2 linked regions of the Homo sapiens genome follow. The protein of the gene in region 2 purifies or fractionates together with the protein of the main gene of each other region. This does not show direct contact. Each region holds a gene or a part of one and is shown on either strand. Other genes may lie near its edges.

Region 1 (7,027 bases), on a different chromosome or scaffold from region 2:
TCACCCGGGTCCTCCTCCCGGGGCTCTTCCCGTGGTCACCCGGCTCCTCCTCTCGGGGACTCTTCCCGTGGTCACCCGGCTCCTCCTCTCGGGGACTCTTCCCGTGGTCACCCGGGTCCTCCTCTCCGGGGCTGTGTGCCAGGAGAAATGGGGCTGGATCTGGGCGTCAGGTCAGGAATCCAGGGGAGAGGCCATGCTCTCAGTGTTCCTTGGCAGGGCTGTGAGCGCAGGTCTCTGAGGATGCCCAGCTGTCCATCCCCTCCTCATAGGAGAAGCGCAGATCTCATGCCTAAGTGTGCCAGGGTCCTGATGGGCGCCACCTACAGCCTCCCGCCCTCACGCGGGAGTCAGACTGAACGAACTAGCCCAGATCCACAGAGACTTCTAAACCCGGCTGGGTGCTGCCATGGAAAGTACACAGGGCTCAGATTTGGGGGTAAGGTGACTTAGCCTGGGGTCACGAAATGTGTAAGGATTTCTTGGGGTGGCTGTGACAAATGACCTCTAACCGTGGCTTGAAACAGCAGAAATGTATTCTCTCACCATCACAGAGGCACACGTCAGAAACCGAGGTGCCAGCAGGGCCACGGTCCCCGAAGGCGCTGGGGGAGGACTCTTCCTTACCTCTCCCCACTCCTGGGGCCCCAGGCACTCATTGTCATCCCTGGGCTTGTGGCCGCATCACTGCAATCTCTTGCCTCCATCTCTTCCCTTGGCCTTCCCTTCAAGTCTGCGTCCAAACCTCCCTCTCCTTTCTTCTGTTAAGAACCAGTCACTGGATTTAGAGCCCCTCAATCCAGTATGACCTCCTCTTAACTTGATTACATCTGCAAAGACCCTAGATCCAAATAAGGTCACATGCACAGGTAGGGGCTGGGTGTGGAGTAGGACCCGAACTTCATCGGAAACACAGCTCAGGCCACTACAGAAGAAAGTGGTGTTGGAGCTGGATGCTGGCTGATGGGCTGGGAGCAGCGAGGAGCCGTCCAGGGAAGGGTGTTGAGGCTGGCAGTGTGGAGAGGCCAGGAGGCCACCTTGGAAGGCCCGAGGCCAGGTGGCCGAGGCAGAGGGTATGAGGGGCACCCGCTGGCCTGTCTGCATCAGCTCCCCTCAGGTGGAGCCTTTCTCAGGGCCGAGCTTCTTGGCCGTCAGATGTTCCCACCAGGCTGTGTTCAGCCTCAGAGTCGATAACTGTTTCCAGGCTGGGCGCCGTGGCTCATACCTGTAATCCCAGAACCTTGGGAGGCTGAGGCGGGCGGATTACCTGAGGCCGGGCATTGGAGACCATCCTGGCCAATATGGTGAAACCCCGTCTCCACTAAGAATACAAAAATCAGCTGGGCGTGGTGGTGGGTGCCGGTAATCCCAGCTACTCGGGAGGCTGAGGCAGAAGAATCGCTTGAACCCGGTGGGCGGAGCTTGCAGTGAGCTGAGATAGCGCCACTGCACTCCAGCCTGGGTGGAGCGCCACTGCACTCTAGCCTGAGACTCTGTCTCAAAAAAAAAAAAAAAAAATCTATAATCGTGTTTCCTTTTTTAAACAGGAAACTACTTTGCTTCGCACTTTTTCATGGGAGGAGAGAAATTCGACACCCCCCACCCTGAAGGTTACCTCTTTGGAGAGAACATGGATCTGAACTTCCTGGGCAGCCGCCCGGTCCAGGTGGGTCTGGACAGGGCTGTCTCATGGGGCTGTGGGGGTGGGAGGCCCCTGTCCCCAGCAGTCCGCATCCCAGCCATGAGGGCAAGCAGGCACCAAATCACCCCTAAAGGGGGCAGAGCTCCTGGCAGGATTCCAGTTGAGCTTGGGTGTGGGCACGTGCCCTGGAATGGGTTGTGTCCTGGTGCTGCCCCCTAGAGGCCAGATGGCCAGGGGCAGGTCACTGAGAAACAGAGCAGCCATACTGAATGGGTGCGTCTGGGCTGCAACGGCTGCGGAACATGGTGGATTTGATTCCAGCCTTCTTGGATGACTTTCTTTACAAGGCAAAAATAGTATTTACAGACTGGGCATTGTGGCTCACGCCTGTAATCCCAGCACTTGGGGAGGCTGAGGCGGGCAGATCACCTGAGGTCAGGAGTTTGAGACAAGCCTGGCCAAAATGGTGAAACCCCGTCTCTACTGAAAAAAAAGAAAAATTAGCCGGGTGTGGTGGCACGTGCCTGTAATCCCAACTACTCGGGAGGCTGAGGCAGGAGAATCACTTGAATCTGAGAGGCGGAGGTGGCAGTGAGCCGAGATTGCACCACTACACTCCAGACTGGGCAACAAAGGGAGACTGTCTCAAAGAAAAAAAAAAAAAAGAATATTTACTTTCCCTAGAACAGTGGGCAAGAGACATGGTCCAAAGGAGAGATGCAGACAGCTGGCTAACATCTTCCCCTCGTTGCCAGAGAAGGGCACATTCGAGTACTGTCATAGTACTCGAGTACTGTGAGCTGTCTGTTCAGCACACATGTGGCACCTGCTGCGTGCCTAGTGCTCTTCCAGGGCTTGGGGTGAAAGCAGACCCTGCCTCTGCTACCTGGTGGGGGCGTAGACAATTAATACGGGACAAATGGGTAGAAGAGAGAAGGGGCAGAAAGGGAGGCTCTACTGGAGAGGCCATGGCTGAACCAAGCCATGATAGGTGGGAAGGGGGCCCCTCCAGAAGAAGCTAGAAGGCAGGGGGCCTGGGAACAGAGGAAGAGGTGAGAGGGTGCAGGCCTCAGGGGACAGGAGGCCGGAAGAGCCAGTAAACTTTGGGGGCCCTGGGGCGGGTTGCTGAGCTGTGCTCGTAGGAAGCTTTGGGGATGGAAAGGGTGGGGACTGAGGAAGGGGCTGAGGGTGCTCGGGGCAGTGATGGATATGGGAAGCCTGGGAGAGCAGGTTGGGGATGGGCAGCCCCAGCGTGCAGGGGTCTGGCGTTGAGGCTGCCTGGCTGGATTTGCTCAGGGTGATTTGGTCCTGGCCGTTGCGTGTGCTGGCTGCGTGGCCTGCAGCTTCTACCTGTAAATGAGAACAGTGCACCCAGTATAGCCCCTCCCATGGGACTAGATCCCAGGGATACCCTCTGGGGCTGTGGCTGCTGCACCCTGACCCGTTTTCTGTTGTTGGCTGCTCCTGAGGGAGTCACCTGGGGCCCTGTGGTTTTTCTCCTAGTTTCCCTACGTCACTCCTGCCCCCCACGAGCCCGTGAAGACGCTGCGGAGCCTGGTGAACATCCGCAAAGACTCCCTGCGGCTGGTGAGGTAACTTCACCCTGCCCCTGGGGACCCTGTGGCTCTGTGGGGCGCAGCCTGTGGTGGAGGTTCTGGCTTGATGCTTGAGGAAAAGGGCAGGCGGGAGGGGCCCCAGTTTCTGCGCCCTCCCGTGTGGAATGAGAGGCTGTCCTGGGCTGAGCGAGGGAAAGGGCATGTGGAACAAGAGCCGTTTAGCCAGGGCTTCTCAGCTGTGCCGCACAGGGACCCTGGGCAGTGTCTGGAGGCAGCCAGGTGGGGTGCTTGGCATCTCAGGTGGGTGCCAGGGGTGCTGCAGACTTCCTGCCATGCACAGGACGGCCCCCCCACAGACAGGAATGACCCAGCACCAGATTTCAGCAGGTTCAGAAACTGCTTAAACCGACTAGACTTGAGGCATCTGGGGCTGTCTCTGAACCAAAAGCACGTACCCCGTCTTCTGTGGGCAGGAAGAAGGAGAGGCAAGCCCTGGACCACTGGGCTTTCATGTACAAATAGGAAACAGCCCCTATGTCTACTGGAGAAGCGGGCTGTGTCCACATAGCCACCTCCACGGCCCCTCAGCCTGGCAGGGGAGGAGGCAGCCTCCGCAGATGGGGCCGCTGACCCGCTGCCTTTCTCTCCACCGCCTGGGGTAGGTACAAAGACGATGCCGACAGCCCCACCGAGGACGGCGACAAGCCCCGGGTGCTCTACAGCCTGGAGTTCACCTTCGACGCCGATGCCCGCGTGGCCATCACCATCTACTGCCAGGCATCGGAGGAGTTCCTGAACGGCAGGGCAGTGTGAGTCCCGCGGGCGGCTGGCACCGGCCTGGCTGGGGGCCCCAGACTCCTGGGGGAGGCTTCTGTCCACCTTACTAACCAGAGGGAGAAAACCAAACCGTGCTCTTTGACCATACTCCCAGGACTTTACCACGATGTGAGGGGTTTCTCCCACCCCAGGGACTCCCCACTTTTCTGCGGGAACCAGCTGGGGTCCTTTGACTGGTTTCAGTTCCAACGCTGCCTGGAGGTCATGCAACCCCTGCACTTTGAGGGCCCAGTCCCACAAGACTGCCCCACTTCAGATGCCACTCATAAGCCCCCGCTGTCACCTGAACTTCTCAGCAACCAGCCATAAATCAGGCTCCCACAGTCCCCTCCTCAGGCTTGATGAGTTGCTAGTGTGGCTCACAGAACCCAGGGAAACACTTGGCTGGTGTTTGTTGGTTTATTGTAAAGGATTCAGATGAAGAGGTTCACAGGGTGAGGTGTGGGGGAAGGGGTGGGGCGCACCACCTTCCTCGTATTCAGCAAACCAGAAGCTCTCCTGAAAACCCCATTTCAGGGCCTTTTCTGGAGGCTTCATCACGTAGGCAGGATTGATGATTAACTCCATCTCCAGCCCCTGTCCCCTCCCTGGAGGATGGGGCTGGGCTGAAATTCAGTTCCAGGTTTTTGTTTTGTTTTTGTTTTGTTTTGTTTTGAGACGAAGCCTCACTCTGCTGCCCAGGCTGGCGTGCAGTGGCACAATCTTGGCTCACTGCAACCTCCGCCTCCCGAGTTGAAGCAATTCTCCTGCCTCAGCCTCCTGAGTAGCTGGGACTACAGGCACGTGCCACCACGCTTGGCTAATTTTTGTATTTTTAGTAGAGATGGGGGTTTCGCCATGTTGGCCAGGATGGTCTCAATCTCTTGACCTCATGATCTGTCCATCTCAGCCTCCCAAAGTGGTTTTTGTTTGTTTTTGAGACAGAGTTTCGCTCTTGTTGCCCAGGCTGGAGTGCAATGGTGTGATCTTGGCTCACTGCAACCTCCGCCTCCTAGGTTCAAGTGCTTCTCCTGCCTCAGCCTCCCGAGTAGCTGGGATTACAGGCATATGCTACCATGCCTGGCTAATTTTGTATTTTTAGTAGAGACGGGGTTTCATCATGTTGGTCAGGCTGGTCTCAATCGCTCGACCTCAGGTGATCCACCTGCCTCGGCCTCCCAAAGTGCTGAGATTACAGCCGTGAGCCCCCATGCCCGGCCCACCTGGCCCAGGTTTTTGTTTGTTTTTCCTCGGGAGCTCTTAGACGACACTTCCAAGTCTCTAATCATGGCTTGGTCTTTCTGGCAGCCAGCCACCTCCAGGAGCCAAGAGTCACCTCACTGGCACATAAGACACTCCTACCACCCGGGAAATTCCAAGGGTTTGGAGTTCTGTGTTGGGAGCAAAGGTCAAGGAACAAATATTAGAACAAAAGAGGCTCCTAGCACCCCTGTTGCTGAGGAAATGACAAGGGTTTTAGAGGACTCTGTGTCAGGAACTGGGGCTGGGACCAAATATTTATTTTTTATTGTGTCATAATTAGATATTTGTACTTTCAGAGGTTTTATTTGAGATAAGGGTCCTTCTGGCCCTGAAAGTTTGAAAACTGCAACTTCAGCAGGAGCTGGCAGGACTGCCTCCAGGCTACAAGGGCACATGTGCCCCAAGTGGCTTTAGAGACAGGCAAGAGCGTGCCCCCTGCCTTCCTGCACTGGAGCACACCGCTCAGTGGTCAGCTTTGCATCTGGGGATAGGGTGTGGTTGAGAGCCTAGGCTTTGAATGCTGTCCCCGCTGAGTGGCTTGGGGGCACATGACTGCTTGTGCCTCTGTGTCCTCAGCTGGAAGTTCGGGTGGGTGGTGTGAGGAGGGGACCATGTGTCCTGTGCACAGCCCCTCGCGTGACAGGTGCTCTTGAAAGGAGCCTGAGTGCTCGAGTTGAGGGGCTGGTGGAGACGACTTATGTGGGGAGGTTCTTAGGGACCTGCCACCAGGTGAGGCCGCCCTTGGGCTCTGGCCTTGGGCTCCCCGGCAGCCAGGGCTCCTCCTGTGGAGCAGCACTTTGGGGAGGAACAGGTTCCTTTTTCTAGACTTTGTTCTTTGAGGCTCTACCTTGCCCCGGCACTTGATTATATTTCTTTAATGACACTAGTAATGCATGCCTGTGTGCTATGACAGGCGTCGAATTCTTGGGCGTAGGAGCATTTGGAGTGACCAGGGCAGGCCCCTCTGTCCCCTCCTTGCACCCCACTGCTTGGGGTTGAGTGTTTGACACCCACGGGGCCTGGTGCCCTCCTCGGGCCTGGCCGACATGGTGGAGGAGCTGGGTTGTGGCGAGGTGTCCAGGGGCTGCCACAGAGAGGGTGTGGGCTGAGGACACAGGCCAGTGTAAGTTGTCTATCCGCTGCCCCCCAGTGCTCCAGCTGTCAGGGGCTGGGTGACCATCTCAAGTGCACTTGAAGAGAGGGTCCCGCTGCTACCAGAAAGGCTAGAGAGAGCAGAGAGGGTGCCCTGCCAGCCCTGGCTGGTGTCACCCTCTCCTAGACCCCTGCGGGCTAGTGATGAGAGAAATGCCACAGTCCCCCCCTCTCAGGACCTGGCACAAGGCCAGCTTCCCCTCCCAGCAGGAATCACAGAGCAGGAACAGCTCCAGTGCCACTGTCCCCCTCTGTCAGGACCTGGTACGAGGCCTGCTTCCCCTCCCAGCGGGGATCACAGAGCAGGAACAGCTCCAGTGCCACTGTCCCCCTCTCTCAGGACCTGGTACGAGGCCTGCTTCCCCTCCCAGCAGGCATCACAGAGCAGGAACAGCTCCAGTGCCACTGTCCCCCTCTCTCAGGACGCGGTGCAAGGCCAGCTTCCCCTCCCAGCAGGGATCACAGAAAAGGACCTGGAGGCTCCAGGACCTGGAGGCTGTGCCCAGGCACCCGGACACCATCCAGCCTGCCAGTGCTCCATCCATTTGAGCTGCAGGGCAAGCCACCCTCCCTGCCTCCTGACAAGGAAACTGAGGCTCAG
Region 2 (7,027 bases):
TTCCAAGGACATTCTAGAGATGAGTAATAATGGGACTTCCCATGGCCCTGAAACCCTGAAGATACTGAGCAGCCTGGCCTGGGACTGGATGTTTCAGCAGAAATAACACAGGGGAGACCAGAATCAAGCCTGGAGGTCAGTTCAGTCATCAGGCAGTGGAGGCTCAAGGTGGGGCAGTTTTTTGCAGGTGTTTCATGATGACTTACTTGAACCAGTGACCTCTAAAGATAGAGCAGAGTGCAAGGAATGATCTAGAAAGAGTGAAGGTGACAGGCAAGAGCTGGTGGCTTTGGAGCAGAAGCATGTTCCCTGTCTTGGGTTCTTTAAGTTTCCTCTCCTTCTGCAGAGGGCAGGTGAGGACCATGTGGATCTTTCCAGAAATACATGTGGACATTTGCAAATGCAGCACTGACTGGTGGAAAGGGTGGGAATGAACTGCTGGAAATCTGGTCCTCATGGACCATATGTGTTTGATGGATATGAGACAAATTTGGAGAGAAGTTTTGCAAATATTTTCTTTCATTGGACATTCTACTCAATGATTCCATGGGTTCGACTACTCTAGGGACCTCATGTAAGTGGATTCCAGAGTGAATATGAGAAGAGACTGCTGGTTGCCAGGAGCTGGGAGTGGGGAGAATCAGAAGTTGTTCATGGGTGGGCAGTTTCAGTTATTCAAGGTGGGGAGGTTCTAGAGATCTGCTGTAGAGCTTGATGCCTATAGTTCACACAGATTGAGTATTTCTTATGCATAAGACTTAGGACAAAAAGTGTTTTGGATTTCTGACATTTTTTGATTCTGAAATATTTGTCATATACTTACTGGTTTAGCATCCCAAATCTGAAAGACTCAAAATCTAAAATGCTTCAGTGAGCATTTCTTTTCAGCATCAGATTAGTAGGCAAAAGTGGGAGGTGATAAGCCAAAGATATTCTTGCCCTTTTTTTTTCTCTCACCACTTTTCTAGCTTGGTGATTAGTTTTCGGTGAATTCCATACTGGCCATGCTGCACTTGTATATTTTTGAAGGCCTTGGGATGTGAGAAAGGCTGATTGCTATTTTCTATGTCATCAGAACTTTCCACCTTTTCATGGTTGCCTCTTTTTCTCAGTGTATCTGTTGTGGCAGTCATTAATAAGAGCCTGTCAGGTGAGATTTAGGACAGTGTTTTCTAATTCTGCAAAAAATGTTACTGGGATTCTGTTAGGTGTTACATTGAATCCGCAACTCACTTTGGGAATATTATCTTTCTAACAATATTGATTCCTCCAATCCATGAAAATGAAATGTGTTTCCATATATTGATATCGTCTTTAACTTGTTTCAGCAATCTTTTGTAGTTTTCAGGGTATAATCATTTGACTTTTTGGTTAAACTTATTTCAAAATATTTTATTCCTTTTGATGTTAATGTGAACTGAAATTCTTTCCTTAATTTCCTTTCAGATTGTTCATTGTTAGTGTATAGTCTAAAGAATGATCTAGAAAGAGTGAAGGGGACAGGCAAAAGCTGGTGGTTTTGGAGCAGAAACATATTCCCTGTCCTGGGTTTTTGATTTTCCCTCTCCCTTTGCAGAGGGCAGGTGGCTCTTCCCTGATAGCTAGATAGACTTCACTGGAAAACATAGTGCCAATGCTCCAGGGATCCACTTACCAGGGACTATGATCCTCTTGATTATGAGATTTGTTCCAGCAGTGGCTGAGTTATGGATGAAACAGACATAGACCCCTCTATATGTTTTAGTGATTTGGGGGATAAAGAACACTTGTGCTGATTGCTGGAACTTCCCATCAATCAGCCAAGAATGCTCTGCCAGTGGGTGAGAGTCTGTGAGGCAGGAGAGCTTGGGGGCTTCCCCTGTATGGTAATAGGTGTATGAGGAGGAAATGGTGGGGGCATCCAGGCCATGTGGAGCAAAGAGAATAATGTCATAGGTGGTATTGTCAGAGGGAAGGGAAAATCCTGGTCTGTGGAAGGGCCACAGTGACCCTGTGAGCCAAGTTGCAACACTGAAGTCCCAGCCAAATCCCTGCTGTGTTCACTGATCTGGAGCCTGAGACAGTCACCTGTTTTGCCCATCACAAGCTGTGGACGCTGAGTCTCCCATGACAGGAGCAGCCTCTTTTCTCCTATTGTTGATCAAGCCTAGGCCTACTCTGGTTTGCCTGGGGCAGAAAGTCATGGCCAGGTTTGATGTCCAGGGGTAAAGGTCTCTGTACTTGGACCTGAGAGGGACTGAGAGGCCTGGCCTCTGGCCACGTGTATTTGGGATGGCAGACTGGCTCACAGAGGAACAGGAGATACTCACGGAGGAGATTCAGGGTGACTGGGTCACTGCGGCTGGCACTCACTGGGTTCCGTATTTCACATTCATAGGGTCCTGCAGTGTACTTTGTGACACCAAATAGAAAGAGGGTCCTTTTGTTTTTGGACAACTGCAAGCTGTGAGTCATAGGGAGGCTCTGACCATTCATCCACCACAGGTAGCTTGCGTCCGGAGTCTCAGGATCACAGGTTAAGCTCACAGCCTCCATGTCCTCCCTGGGGTATAAGTTGCTGCTGGAGATGGAGGGCTTGGGAGTCTCCACTGTGCAGAAAACAGAGAGAAGATTGCCCTGTGTGGCACCTTTGATTCCTCCAAAGGCATTTTTCAATCAGAGTTGGCATTTCCCACCTCTCAGCCCACCCAAGTCCTTAAAAGCCCATGGCAGGTGTGTGTGTTACAAGACAGATGCATGGCAATCTGAGGGCTCAGAGATTGTGAGGCTGCCTGCTTCGTGTGGGAGAAGCACAGACTTTCTTAACTGTGAATTGAGCAGCAGCATTGGGTCACGGAAAGACACAGGACCAGCAGTCACAGCCCCTGGTGCCTCTCTGAGTCCCTCCATCTCGAAGTGCCTGCCTGGCCCACCTTGTGGTCCTCACTTGGAGCATGCAGTGCTGGAATCTTCTTAGTTTCAGTCTTACTTTGCCGCCCGAGGTATGTTTTCTCTGCAGCTTCCCTTGCCAAGGACATCCTAGAGATGGGTGATGGAACTTCCAATTGTCTTTAAACCCTTTGGATACTGGAAAGCCTGACCTGGGACTGGGTACTTCAGCAGAAATAACACAGGGGAGAACAGAGTCAAGTCCGGAGTTCAGTTCAGTCATCAGGCAGTGGAGCCACAAGGTGGGGCAGTTTTCCCAGGTGTCTCATAGTGGCTGACTTGAGCCAGTGACCTCTAAAGATAGAGCAGAGTCCAAGGAATGACCTACAAAGAGTGAAGGGGACAGGCAAGAGCTGATAGCTTTGGACCAAGACCACGTTCCCTGTTCTGGGTCCATGATGCTCCCTTCCCCCTGTAGAGGGCAGGTGAGGACCATGTGGATCTTTTTGGAAATACATGTGGATGTTTGCAAATGCAGAACCGACTGGTGGAAAGGGCGAACATGAACAGATGATGGAAGTCTGGCCCTCATGGACCATATGTGTTTGGTGGATATTAGACCAATATTTGGGAAGAAGCCTTGCAGATACTTTCTCTCATTAGACATTCTACTCTCTGATTCTGAATTTGACTACTCTATGTACCTGATATCAGTGGATTCCAGAGTGAATCAGAGTGTAGAATAGTAGTTTCCAGGAGCTGGGATCAGGGGAATAGGGCGTTGTTCTGTGGGTGTGCGGTTTCAGTTATGCAGGATGAGGAGGTTCTAGAGATCTCCTGTACAGCTTCATGCCTATAGTTCATACAGATAAAGTGCTCCTTATTCAGAAAGCTTAAAACCAAGTGTTTTGGATTTCTAATTTTTTTTATTTTGGAATATTTACAGTACATGTACTGGTTTAGCATCCCAAATCTGAAAAATTTAAAATCCACAATGCGCCAGTGAGCACTTCTTTTTAGCATCACATCAGTGGTCAGAAGGGTTGAGTTTTGGAGCATTTCAGATTGTGGATTTCTGGATTTCCGATGCTCAATTTGTAATACTGTAATTTTCCCATAAAAATTTGTCAGGAGTTTAGACCTTATGTTCTGACTCTAGTAACAACAACAGCAAAAAATTTGGAGGAAACATTGAAATGTTTTCATAAGTGGAAATTTTTACTGATGATCCAAACATCTAAGATCAATTGCTGGTAGTAGTATTTCTCTTGAGACCAAAATAAGGTTTAGGTGTGCCGTGAATTCCAGCAGGATCACATTATGCTCAAAGAAAGATGCCAAAGGTGATTTGAAATTAGCAACTCCTTAAGTAGAGAGAGTCCCGTTAAAAGGACAGAACTGGTTAGTGTGTCAATTGCATAAAGGGAGGAAGGATGCCAAACTAAAAGAAGTGATGTGTGTTATGTTAGTAAATATAGAAAGAACCTGCTTCTAATTTCTGTGCAGAGTTAGGAAAAATGGGGAGGACCCCAAAACAGGTATGTGAAATGCTTTCTTCATTTTCTCTTAAGCTCAGGAAACACCACTAGTGTTTAAGTTTGTGTGAATTAGAAAGAGTCTAAGTGAGATGCCAATGGTTTGTGTGTCTCCCCACACGCAGAACTCCAACTTATGAAAACGGCATCATCATGAGGAAACAGTTGTATGTGGCACAGGCAGTAAAGCCATCAGATAGCACCCACCTGGCCACCTCCACCTGGTCCCCAAAACCACCAGTATTCCCATTACGTGTATCTTATAGCCTTTGTAGTTGTCCCACAGCTACAAAATTTAAAAATTGCTATTGTCAAATCAAAATATTAAATATGAAGTTGAAATGTTGTTCCACTTTTTTTCCCCACTCTTGTTGAACTTTCCTGTTTCAGTTTTGGAAGTTTCTATTGACATATCCTCAAGCTAGGGATTCTTTCCTCAGCTATGTTCAGTCTACCAGTAAGTATCAAAAGCATTCTTCATGTCTCTAAAAACATTTTTTTTTTTCTGAGACAGAGTCTCGCTCTGTCACCTAGGCTGGAGTGCAGTGGCATGATCTCATCTCACTGCAAGCTCCACCTCCTGGGTTCATGCCATTCTCCTGGCTTGGCCTCCCAAATAGCTGGGACTACAAGCGCCTGCCACCACGTCCAGCTAATTTTTTGTATTTTTAGTAGAGACGGGGTTTCACCATGTTAGCCAGGATGGTCTCCATCTCCTGACCTTGTGCCTGCCTCGGCCTCCCAAAGTCCTGGGATTATAGGCATGAGCCACTGTGCCCAGCCATCTCTGAGGGATTTTAATGAGTTGTTGACTTTTGAGTTTGTTCAGCTTTTTACTTAGTGTTAGAACCGAGGAACAAATTTCAAGCTTGTTATATGCCTGACAGGAAGCCAGAAGTCTCTAGGAAGTGACCGGAGAATGTGAGCTTTATAGCAGGTTGAGGATGGAGTCACAAGTGAAATGGGTGAAATGAGCCCATGGGGTTTGGGGACTGCAGGCCTGTCCAGCCTCTGACACTCTGGTGAGTCAGTGCTAAGATTACAACAGTGACAGCAAACTAGCATGGCTGAGTCCATCTGGTATCTAGTCTCAGGCTGGCTGTCCTCACTCATTCCTGGGCATAGGCCAGGCTAACCTTGGGAGGAATTTAGTTTATTGTTTAACTTTGAAGCAAGAATGATAATTGTTCCTCTGTAAAAGTAACACCCTTACTTTGCCCAGGGACTGCCTTTGTAAAACTAGTGAAAGACCATGAGATTAAGATTATAGGAGGGAACTGAATTCTGCTAAAATGTTGGCAGAGTTTTTATAATCCTTGACTGCTCAAATGTCGTTGGGCCAGAGTTTACAAAATTTGTAACTAATTGCTCCTATAGATAACATCACTATTGTAGAACGTGAGATTGGTCTTTTGAGATGTTTCTCATTCTTTTGCATTCTGGCAACCGGCTGACCTCATCCATACCTATGACTAATGGCTCAGCCCGTCATGTGGTCCCTACCTAGAGGTGGATTCAAGCACAAACAGATCATTTCCCTCCGCCCGCATGATTCCATCACCAATCAGCAGTACTCATTTTTTAGTCCTGTGCCCCTGAAACTATCCTTGAAAATCTCTAAGCCCTGATCCACTGGGGAGGCTGATTTGAGTAATAATAAACCTCCATCCTCCTGTTTGGCAGACTTGGAGTCATTAAAATCTTTCTTTACTACAAACCACCATTTCAATACATTTGTGTGTGTGTGTGTGTGTGTGTGTGTGTGTGTGTGTGTGTGTGTGTGCAGGAGGCCAGAAGAACTTGTCTGGCAATTATAAGAGTGGATGGAGAAACTGCCTATCCCTGTCCCATGGTCTTGTCCACAGGTCAGCCTCACAAAGGGAAAGAGCCCTGGATGGGAATACAGTGGAAACTCATTCTCTTAGTGACCTGGGGACATTGGCTCTAGAGGAAGCCTGGCAGGAGTGGCAACTCCAGGTGATTTCTGCACCTTTCCTATTTCCTGGGAGGTGGGCCAGGCCACAGTGTTAGCGGGAAGGGAACTGAACAGTCAGCCTAGTTAGAGGGAGTGTCTGGGGAAGACCTAGGGGTGGGGGAAGAAGCTGTGCAGGACAGGGCTTGCCAGTCAGAATGAAGTGGGAGGAAGATGAGGGACACAGAGAAGCAGAGAGAGGCAGAGACACCATGGCAGTGAGCAGTGAGGGCTACACTGACTTCAGAGACCCCAGGGACCAGGTGCCCCCAGTTCCACAGTCCAGGACCAAGGAGCCCTGAGAACCCTCCGGTGGCCAAAGAGCTTCAGAGTTACATGAGGTGGGGTTGCTTTAGGGTCAAGAGGTAGTGGGGGGATGAAACGTGGGTGTCAGCCTCTGAAGGACAAGGGACAGGTGTGGCTAGAACCTCCTAGGATTCTGCATGCAAATTCAGTCTCTAAAGAGGTTTTGGATCATTCATTTCTTCATTCCATTTCTTCATTTGTTATGTAAGAGCTCCTGAGTGTGTCTGTCTCGCTGGGCCTATGGTGGTGTAGGGTGTGAGTGGGGAAAGAAAACAAGGTCCTCTCCTTGATCCTCTTGTGACAGTGACATGGACACTTTGGGAAACACAGGATTTCAGGTTCAGTG

Evidence for each region.
Region 1: the proteins of PSG3 (region 2) and MGRN1 purify together in Homo sapiens (co-immunoprecipitation; 2 studies listed by BioGRID and IntAct, with this or other methods). This does not show direct contact.

What each region holds. Positions count from the first base shown.
Region 1 is NC_000016.10:4,648,821-4,655,847, forward strand, and holds part of MGRN1 (E3 ubiquitin-protein ligase MGRN1), read left to right. Parts: intron 1-1,544; coding exon 1,545-1,663; intron 1,664-3,142; coding exon 3,143-3,231; intron 3,232-3,857; coding exon 3,858-4,004; intron 4,005-7,027. UniProt on the Homo sapiens protein: E3 ubiquitin-protein ligase. Mediates monoubiquitination at multiple sites of TSG101 in the presence of UBE2D1, but not of UBE2G1, nor UBE2H. Plays a role in the regulation of endosome-to-lysosome trafficking.
Region 2 is NC_000019.10:42,730,475-42,737,501, forward strand, and holds part of PSG3 (pregnancy-specific beta-1-glycoprotein 3 precursor), read right to left. Parts: intron 2,589-7,027; coding exon 2,310-2,588; intron 1-2,309.